Regions from separate parts of the Homo sapiens genome. Here region 1 is linked to region 2. Evidence: fine-mapped expression QTL. A gene starts in region 2. The other region holds a variant in brackets. All regions are shown on one strand. Distances are from middle to middle.

The links. PIP is the estimated chance that this variant, and not a neighbour inherited with it, causes the effect.
Region 1: its variant is the best candidate, but not a certain one, in a credible set for the expression of LINC00184 in subcutaneous fat (TwinsUK, PIP 0.81).

The regions. Positions count from the first base shown.
Region 1 is chr1:234,637,931-234,643,314 of GRCh38, forward strand. No RefSeq gene overlaps it. Among named protein-coding and RNA genes, the nearest start is that of LINC00184, 11 kb to the left of the region's middle. RefSeq lists a silencer at 5,193-5,384 and an enhancer at 5,193-5,384. The variant G/C (reference allele first, on the strand shown) is at 3,170.
Region 2 is chr1:234,627,217-234,632,600 of GRCh38, forward strand. It overlaps LINC00184 (long intergenic non-protein coding RNA 184), which reads left to right and starts at 2,095. Exons shown (of 2, transcript NR_033927.1): 1 at 2,095-2,531.

The DNA of each region.
Region 1 (5,384 bases), 11 kb after region 2:
GAGATGGATTCTCACTCTGTTGCCCAGGCTGGAGTGCAGTGGCATGATCTCAGCTCACTGCAACCTCTGCCTCCCAGGTTCAAGCGATTCTCCTGCCTCAACCTCCCGAGTAGCTGGGACTACAGGTGCGCACCACCGTGCCCAGATAATTTTTGTATTTTTAGTGGAGATGGGGTTTCATCATGTTGGCCAGGATGGTCTTGATCTCTTGACCTCATGATCCACCCTGCTTGGCCTCCCAAACTGTTGGGATTACAGGCGTGAGCCACTGCGCCTGGCCTATATTTTAGTGTTCTAAGATTTTTCTACAATGACTCTGTATTGCTTTTAATGTCAAAAATCTCAATAATTTTGAAGGTTATGGTATTTATATACTTTTTTAAAAAATGACAAATGTTCTCCCTAAATCAGAAATGTGGACACCGTGTTTTGGCTTTAGTGTAGTGAGGTGGAGTATTATGATTAAATACTGTGTTTTCAAGCATTAATGACTCAAAGAGCAGGTACTTACAGAGCACCTATTATTGCCATCAACCAGTGTTATTGAGCACTTACTCAATAAGTGTTGGCCTCTGACTTTACGCCTAAGAGTCAGGAGACCACAAAAAAGCAACAATGTCAGGTCTGCAAGGTGAAGGCAAGAAGCTCATGTTCTAGGTACTTGTGACTGTCCTGTAATGCTAAAGAATGAACCATTACCAAAGATTTGGCAAACTCGCCCAAGCTTACTCCTAAGGAGTCTAACCTTTGCCCAAGTATCTAGGACTCAGGCCCACCTGCTTAGCCTGGTCTCACTGAAGTGTGGAGGCAAAGCATTTGCAGCTTCATCATATTCCATTTTGTCTCATAAGGAAATTGTGTTAGTCCAAGAGGCTTGGTGTGTTACATGGTTGTACAGCTTAGTGCTTTCTTAGCACTCTGTTTAAGTGCTGACAACTTGATATTTTCATCAATGGTTGCTATATTTCTCCAATGTTAGGTTGACAGGCTAATAATTTCAGAAGTCAATTTCTCCCTCTCTCTCTCTTCTCCCAGTTTACATATTTCTATTTTCCAATTCCTTTATCTGCATTTTGTAAATACCTCAAAATAGTGGAAGGCAAGGCCTCTAGGATCACTTGGCCCAATCTCCATATAATTGGATCCTTAGGGCTTGCTATATCTTTAAAGAAATTGAGGTCACCTTTTGTCACCAAGAATTAAGCACCTGTTGTGTGACTGATGGAGATCTGTACACAGAGCACATTGCCCAGGGCAGGGGTGATTTGGTTACAGGCAGCCTCTCGATGTATGATAAAAGTTGGCATCAGGTTGTAAACATTTTGCTCACTGTAGCAGAAAGCTCTCTGTGAACGGAGAGCTGTCTAAACAGGGTGGTTGGCCACAGAACCTGCCCAGGGATGCACCTCCTTTCCACATTAGCCCATGGCCTTTCCAGCCCTGAAATCTGAGTTGCATGTGAGTCACTTAGACAGGCCATCTGTCAATTATTAAGCGACATCAGTGGGCCCAGCAATTCCATTCTGCGTAGTGCAAAGGTCCTCCACACATTCCAGGTCTATACCATCAAAGTGGCTATTTTTCTCAACCTATCCCTGCCCTTTAAGAAAATGGGGGTCATTTATTTCCAGGGATCACTATTTACACCCCATTGGCAGGTAGTGGAGCCCAGTGGTTAATAAACAACCTTGTTTTAAATCCCATCTCTGTTGTTTGCAAGCTGTGTGTCTTTCAGAAACTTTACTTAAATTTCTTGAGCATCAGTTTCCTCACAAGGGTGTGGTCAAGTGATAATCAAGTATTTGTACTTTAACCCTGTACCTGGCTGATAGCAAGCCCTCAGAAAAGAATTAACTTAGAGTTTTTATACATTCCCTCCAGTACAATGTTCCTAACATACAAGGGGCATATGTGTGTATTATGAGTGGGAAGAAGGAAGGAAGGATGCAATTGATAAGGCTTGCATTCAACATTGCTGTAGTCAAACCCTCTTTCCTTAGGAAGATCTGGATGTGCCAACATTTCTTATATATCATATGTGGAGGTGACTTAGGTTTTTCTTTCAGTACTTCATCATTTGAAAGAGCATTTGGTGATAATGAGCAGGTTCTGAAGTCTGTGAACTAAACTAAAAGTAAAAATAAATGGGACGGTGAAATTTTGTTTGTGCCTTAAGGGAACTCCCTTTTACCCTCCCACTATGTTGATGATGTCATGTTTGTTCTAACATATCATCTAACAATTCCCTCCATTCATTTTTTTTCTCCTTATTTCTTTTCCTTTCAAGTAACAGTATCTTCAACAATCGTTCGGCTGTTCAGGAACTTAAAAATCATGAGACGATTCTTAAAGGATAGGAACTAACATTGATCACACAGTGTGTAATCCCACATCTATATACTGGCAAATGATGGCACAAACACCATAAAATCTCAGCTTGCTTTGTAGCCATTCTGGATTGCTGAGTTCTAGGCAAGTAAGAGCTGGTCCTTCAAAGCACCAAAAGAAAGAAAGGAAGGAAGGAAAGAAGGGAGGTGGGCAGAGAGGGAGGGAAGAAGGAAGGAGAGGGAGGGAGGGAGAGAGAGAGAAAGAAAAAGAAAGAAAGAAAGAAAGAAAGAAAAAAGAAAGAAAGAAAGAAAGAAAGAAGAAAAAGAAAGAGAGAAAGAAAGAAAAAGAAAGAAAGAGAAAAAAGAAAGGGGGAGAGAGAAGGAGGGAGGGAGGGAGAAAGGAAGGAAGGAAGGGAAGGAAAGAAAGAAAGAGAAAGAAAGAGAGGGAGAGTGAGGGAGGAAGGAAGGAAGGAAGGGAGGGAGGGAGGAAAAGAAAGAAAGAAAAGAGAAAGAAAGAAAGAAAGAAAGAAAGAAAGAAAGAAAGAAAGAAAGAAAGAAAAAGAAAAAAGGAATGGAGGGAGGAAGGGAATAAAGAAGGAACAAAAGAGAAGATTTTGGCAGAACACTTTCTAAAATGTAACTCAACCGCCCCTGCTTTCTTAAAGAGTGGAGGAACTTTATTTAACTTCTTATTTTTTTCTTTTCTTGGTTGTAACATTATCACAAAAAGAACTGATTTCACTGCTATCGGATAAAAAATAATAGGTTTAGGCCATGGTTGGGGGGAGAGAGAGAGAGAAGTGAGAGAGAAAGACACACACACACACACACACACACAGAGA[G/C]AGAGAGAGAGAGAGAGAAAGAGAGAGGGAGAGAAATATTTGCCTGCACACCTGAGAGGTCCCAAATTACTGTGCCTTTTGGAATTCTTGTGCCTGTCTGTTTTTTACATTTTTTTTCTGTTGCTCTCTTCTTTGGGCCATCAGCAGTTACCTCTTGTTAGTGTGCAAGACTATGCAAAGCCTTCTCCCTAATGCTGATTTTCTATTTCTAAATTGCTGTGGGCATAGAGAAACTCACACTGGTTAAGGATATGTGTGCAATAAACATAAATGCTTTTCAAGTCAGGAACTGAGGGCTGGTTCTTCTCTGAGAAAAGCATAAGAAAAGCGTCTCTCAAGTGTTGTTTTATTTTTTAAAAAATTCATTGTTTCTAAGCTATTTTCTAGATATGTGAGGCTAGCAATGGCTCAGTTCTATGTAAATAAAAATATATATTAAGTATTGTCAACCTACCCGCCCCACCCCTGGCAGAGATTGCTTACTCAAATGCTTACATTCGGATGATATATATCTTTCTTGCCCTGAAGTTTTGAAAATTTTAATAGCTCCATGGATTGAAATGACATGAGAGAAAAATATTTCAAGTCTCTTTTAGAATTTTTATGCTCATAAAAATGTTCCCAGTGTATCAAAGGCAAGTTTGATCTCAGAGAAGTCATATCCTCCAAAATCTATCTCAGGTGCTATCTCCCTATTGATGACACTTTCCTCTTTTCCCAATTGGTTTATAAAACTCATTTTCCAAGTGGGCAAAGGACATGAATAGACACATCTCAAAAGAATACATGCAAGTGGCCAACAAACATATGAGAAAATACTCAATATCACTAATCATCAGAGAAATGCAAATTAAAACCACAATGAGATACCATCTCACACCAGTGAGAATGGCTATTAAAAAGTCAATAGGCTGGGGGTGGTGCCTCAAGCCTGTAATCCCAGCACTTTGGGAGGCCGAGGTGGGCGGATCACGAGATCAGGAGTTCAAGACCAGCCTGACCAATATGGTGAAACCCCGTCTCTACTAAAAATACAAAAATTAGCCAGGCCTGGTGGCGTGTGCCTGTAGTCCCAACCACTCGGGAGGCCGAGGCAGAAGAATCACTTGAACCTGGGAGGTGGAGGTTGCAGTGAGCTGAGATCACACCACTGCACTGCAGCCTGGGAGACAGAGCAAGACTACGTCTCAAAAAAAAAAAAAATCAATAAATTACAGCTGCTGGCAAGGATGTGGAGAAAAAGGAATGCTTATACACTGTTATTGGGAATGTAAATTAGTTCATCCCCTATGGAAAACAGTATGGAGATTTCTCAAATAACTAAAAATAGAACTACCATTTGACCCAGCAACCCCACTACTGGGTAACTACCCAAAGGAACAGAAATCGTTATGTCAAAAAGACACCTGCACTCAGATGTTTATAGTTGCACTAGTCACAATAGCAAAGAGGATGGAATCAACCTAAGTGCCCATTCCTGGTGGGCTGGATAAAGAAAATGTGGTACCATGGAATATTATGCAGCCCTAAAAAAGAATAAAATCATGTCCTTTGCAACAATATGGATGCAGCTGGATGCCATTATCCTAAGTGAATTAACATAGAAACAGAAAACCAAATGTCATGTTCTCACTTATAAATGAGAGCTAGACAATAGGCATACGTGGACATAAAGACAGAAACAGTAGACACTGGGGATTCCAGAAGGGGAGACAAAGGGAGTGGGGTAAGGGCTGAAAAACTACCTATTGGGTACTATGTTCACTATTGGGGTGATGGATTCAATAGCAGCCCAAACCCCAGCATTATGCAATATACCCTTCTAACACACCTGCACAAGTATACCCTGAGTCTAAAATTTTTTTAAGTTAATTTTTAAAAAACTCATTTTCCATGACTGGTCATTTCTGTTTAAGATTCTATTGGTCAAAACTGCTATCTAGGCAGTTGCCAGTCCTTCAGGATTTCCAAGCAGAAACCATAATGAGTATTAAAAATCAGTGGGCTGGGAGCTCTAAGTCCCCAAACACATTCACAGTCAACCATGTGATGTTCCCCATTGACAACCCACAAGCAGAGGCAAGCTGCGGGGTGCCGCCCGACCAGAGCAGATTGCAGCCAGGCTGGCCTTCCTGAAAGACACACACACTGGTCCCTGGACCCTGGGACGCCCCCGCTCCCCCGACTGTTTATGTTTGCTGTCACACACTGAACA
Region 2 (5,384 bases):
GTCTTTGATTTTCTAGTTTTTTCTATTTATACTAACACCTCAGAGACCTAATACATTTCATGGCCTTTGTTTACTGTCTCTATCGTAATGACTTCCAAGTCCCTCTCTTCTCTATTCTTGTGTTGGAGTTCTAATTTTGTACTTCTAAGTACCTGTTGGGTATTTCCACCTGTGTATCTCATCGCTGGCTCAGCCGACAAACACATCACTGAGCTCACCATCTTCCCCTGCTCTTCGGTTTTCTCTCTTCAATTTTCCTGTCTATTAGAGTTCCTGCTAACTCTGTAGTCATTAATGAACCAACCACAAGCTTGTCTCCTTCTTCATCCCCTTATCTGAGGACCTGATTGAGCCTCTGGTCCCATGCCCACTGCCATCCCTATTGAAGTCTCACTGCCAGTCCCTCAGCCAAGCATCCTTACTTCTCATCGAGTTCCACATGCAGACTCCTGACTGACTTCTCTGCATTCCAGCTTCCTTGTGCGATACATTCCTGACCCTCCCCGAATTGATCTTTGTACTGCTTTCATCATTTTCCTCCTCTGCTCCATAATTCCTCCGCACTTCAACCCAAACTCCTCACCCAGTTTAGAAAGCTCTGCTCACGTGGTTCCTCCCACTGTGGACAATGCATCTCCCAACACATTAACACCCACCAGAGGTGATGATTAAGGAGTCCCTTCACTCACGAACTAGACTTGCTGTCTTAGTCTTTTGTGTCTGCTCTTTCTTTCATTCATTTACTCCATTTTTGGGGTAACTACTCTGTCCCAGGCACAGACACCTTAAATGGTCCTCTATTACCTATTCCAACCCTATACAGCTTTCAAAGCTCAGGTCAACTTCCAATCCATGAAGCCCAGGTCTCCCTTCTATCACAAGTCTTTTTCCTCTGAACTCCTGGGAAGCTTAGAGACATTGTCAAACATTTAGGACTTAAACATGTGACATGAGATTTCCTGACTGTGTCACGCATGCTCTCCAGTCTGACTTGTTTGAGTTTCTGCAAAGATCTTTACAGAAGATCTATCTTCTTACCACTCAGCTGCAGCTGGCATCGAGCCCTGGCTGGACTAGTCATGCTAACCCCTTGGTTATTAATCATCGCCATGATTTTTCATGTGTTTACTATAGTATGATCCAGGCGTTGACTATACTGGGCACTTTATGAGGTTGTTATTATCCTCCGTTTTTTACAGATGAGGAAAGTGAGGCTCAGAGGGGTTAAGTGACTTCTCCAGTTTTACATAGTTTGAAAGTGGCTGACTGAGAATTTGAATATAGGTCCGACATAATTCAAATATTGTGCTCTTGACCACTTAACTAAATTAACTCTACTTTCTGATTGATTCACATATGTTGAAATCTACTCATTCTCCTCCTAGTGTCATTATGTTTGTTTATTCTCTCCTTTATATTTTTAAGGCCTGCTGGTCTATCCTTTCCAGGATCTACACTTATGCTGGACCCACTAAGCTGTCCTAGAACATCATAGTAAATGTTCACCAGATATTAATTATTTGAGTGAGAATGGTTGTGAGCATTGGGTACTCCCCCAGCCAGTACCCTTCTCTCTTGCAGTAGTATATTTTGTAGATTAAATAAAACTCAAGATAAAAAAAACAAATTAATAAATGATCAATGGAAACAGAAATTTGGAACATAAAAGTATTATTTCAAAATGAACACATTATATGTAAAAGCTCACAACCAGGAATTTCTTCAGTTGGGTTTGCAGCAATGTTATGTCACTAATACTATATTTCTCTCTGTATGGCCAAACCTGTAAAGCCTCAATATCTGATTATGGAGCACATCTAGACTGTTAAAAAGCTTTCTATAATATTAATAAAATCAAATAATAAATAAAAATTAAATTGACTAATCATAGCAATTTCATTTTGAGAATGTTTTGTAGGCTGAAGGCAAATCCTTGAGATATTTTTGCAGGAGCGTCATTGCGAAACAGAATCTGCAGTAGAACTATGTCATCTTCTGGTTCTGAGTGTGCCCTCTCATTGCTGGCAGATGGCAAGTATTTATTTGCTTGCTAGCTCTTTAGTGGAACTGGTCTTCTGTTTCCACTGTCGCCTCGTGTGACACAAACTGCCACCTATCTCCCAAGGTTCTTTCTTTGTAACAGAACCCTAGTTTTTGGCTGGACTCATTTCCCCAGTGGTAGAGGCTGCTGGCTGGTCATGTCATGAGCCCAGGTCTTCTTCTTGGGCACAACCAGATGCCATTTCTCAGCCTCCCTTGCAGTTATATGCAGCTGTGTGTTTGAGTTCTGGCCGTTAGTGAGTGGAAGTGATGTGTCCCTTCTACTCACACTTCTGTAGTCCTGGCCTACAGAAACTCACAATGGTTCTCTATACTCTTTATCTTTCCACAGCTTAATGCAGTTAAGTAACAAGATCTTGGAAGACAAGTGTTGAAGGTGAAAGAGGCACAAGATAGAAGAAACCTGGGTCCTTAGATCCTTGCTTGGAGGAAAACCACCTGCCAATCCAGAACATCATTTTGGACTTCATGTGAGTGAGAAGTAATCCTGTATCATGTTTGAGCCATTAAGCGTATTTTGATTGCTTGTTCTGATAGCTGTAAGTATCTTACTGATGTAGACATCATAAGTGAGAGACCATGTTTCCTCACCTCCCCTGCTAAGTGTAACCATGTAACTAAATTCTGGCCAATGAGATGTAAGCAGAAGTGTTTTGTGTGACTTTGAAACAGGATGCTTCAAGGAAGCTGATTTGGACGGGATGGGAAAACTTCTGTTGTCTTTTGTTCCCTTTCTTTTATAGTTCAGCACTCAGACAAAATGTCAGGAATTGCTCTGGCCATCTTGCACTTCTGTGAATGGAAACCATTTTCTAAGACAATGGGGTAGGGTGATAGAGAAGACTAGGTTTCTGATGGATGTGGAGCTGTTGGGCCCATCTGGGACTCTTAACCCCATCCACAGTGCTTTTATATTGGAGGAATCTCTTGTTTAAGCCTCTATTTTATTTCTCATAGAGACACACGTTCTTTCTATAGGAGCAAAAGTGACCATTTTAAGATTTGAATCAAGTTATGCCACTTCTTGGCTATGAATCCCTTCCTGACTTCCAGTTTACCTTAGAATTGAATTTATATTTCTACCATGGTTTATGAAGCCCTGCTTGATTTGTCTCCTGCCTACCCCAATGACCCCACCACAATTACACTGGCCTGCCTTCTGTTCTGCTGTAGTGACTGATCATTCACCTCCATGAGGCCCTACTGAAGATGTTACCTTTTCAGGGAGGTTCTCTGACCTCCCACCTACAATGGGCTCTCCCAGCTTTCGTCTGTCTCACCACCGTGTTTACTTCCTACATGGCTCTGATCACAGTCTTTAATCATCTGGTTGATGTATTTATTCATTTGTTTGTCACTATCTCCCCAACTAAAATGTAAGCTCTGTGAGGCAAAGATGGTCTCCAGTACAACGCAGTGCCTGCTGCATAGGAAGCACTCATTACATTATGAAAAATACAGCAAACATGTATGTACATTTGAATATACATAAACACTAGATGTATGTGCATGTGTACACATATATAGTTGACCTGTGACTACTGCAGGAGTTGGGGGCGCTGACCCTCCATGCAGTCGAAAATCTGACTTTTAATATAACTTGGTTTTTGGATTTATAGTGTGTGGATTTCTTTTTAAAAATCTGGCCCTGATTATAAAGAGAGAAAAAGTGGAATTAAATTTAGCCATTATTAAGAATCCAACAAATCAAATATAAGTCACAGTGAATACTAAAATTTTGAGGTGAAAAAGAAAATTAGAACTGGAGATAGACATTATAGTGCCGTCCCAGAAAATGGCAGTATCTAGCCCATGAGAGAGTTTCTTTCATATTTTTTTCATTACATGTACTAAACATAGTGATTGCTTTTTATCTTTTTAAAAAAATCTAGGCCAGTCGCGGTGGCTCACGCCTGTAATCCCAGCACTTTGGGAGGCCAAGGTGGGCAGATCACAAGGTCATGAGATCGAGACCATCCTGGCTAACACGGTGAAAACCCATCTCTACTAAAAATACAAAAAATTAGCCAGGCATGGTGTCAGGCACCTGTAGTTCCAGCTACTCAGGAGGTTAAGGCAGCACAATGGCGTGAACCCGGGAGGTGGAACTTGCAGTGAGCCGAGATCACGCCACTGCACTCCAGCCTAGACAATAGAACAAGACTCTGTCTCAAAAAAAGAGAGAGAAAAAAATATCTAAATGATTATTTGCTCTCTGTTCAAAAATCACTCAGCCAAATAGAATTTCCTGCTGAAGAAAATTATGACATAAAAATTTTAAAATTACCCCACCACTTTTTTTTGTTTGTTTTTTATCTCTGTCAGTTTGTTACCTTTATTCCTGAAAGAAGGACTCAAGACTCATGTGATACTCTAAAATAGATATTAATAGGAAATGTTCCTAGACAATGTGGGTTTGCAAGAGAAACAAAGAATTTATTGTTGACTTGATTACTAGCTCAAAGTAATCAGAAATTCCATGAAAGACACTGAAAGTTGACCTCTTTTAAAACTACTTTCAAAAGCGGAGGTTGATTTGTATTTCTTAATCAGCATCTCAGAACAATGTACATTCTTTTTGTATAGTGTCATGGGCATCTGGGACTTTGGCTTGATCAACATCCACTTCCTCCTGTGATACCAAGACCCTAGTTTTCTTTTAAAGAACCACCCCTCCCTGACTCTCAGTCTTTGTTTTCTGGTGGGGTTGACTCTTACCCCTAACCCCAGGGGTGGGGCATGTGGTCCAAGTCTGGCCAATGAGAATTTTAACCATGCTGGTGATTCAAGAATGAGTATATGTTACATGCTGAGCTTATCAGAACCAACATTGTCAGCCACAGGGGTTATGCTAGAAGTATTGGAAAGGATAAATTCTCTTCTGGGGTGGTTAAACCAATAGAAAATTAGCCTGGAGCTTCTGGTGGACATCTTGTCAAAAAAATAGTGATTGCCTGCTTGAGAATGAAATCAAGAGAGAAGAAGGCAAAGCTAAAGCCTGGAGAATATTCCTGAAGACATTTTTCAAGGATCTGGAACCACCCTTGAACTTTTTTTTTTCTTTTTTTTAGAGACAGGGTCTTGTTCTGTTGCCTAAGCTGGAGTGCATTGGTGCAATCATGGCTCACTGCAGCCTCAACTCCTAGTCTCAAATGATTCTCCTTCCTCAGCCTCCCAAGTAGCTGGGACTACAGGCATGTGCCACTGTGCCCAGTGATTTTTTTTTTTTTTTTTTTTTTTGTAGAGATGAGGTCATGTTATGTTGCCCAGGCTGGTCTTGAACTCCTGGCCTCAAGTGATCTTCCCACCTTGGTCTCCCAAAG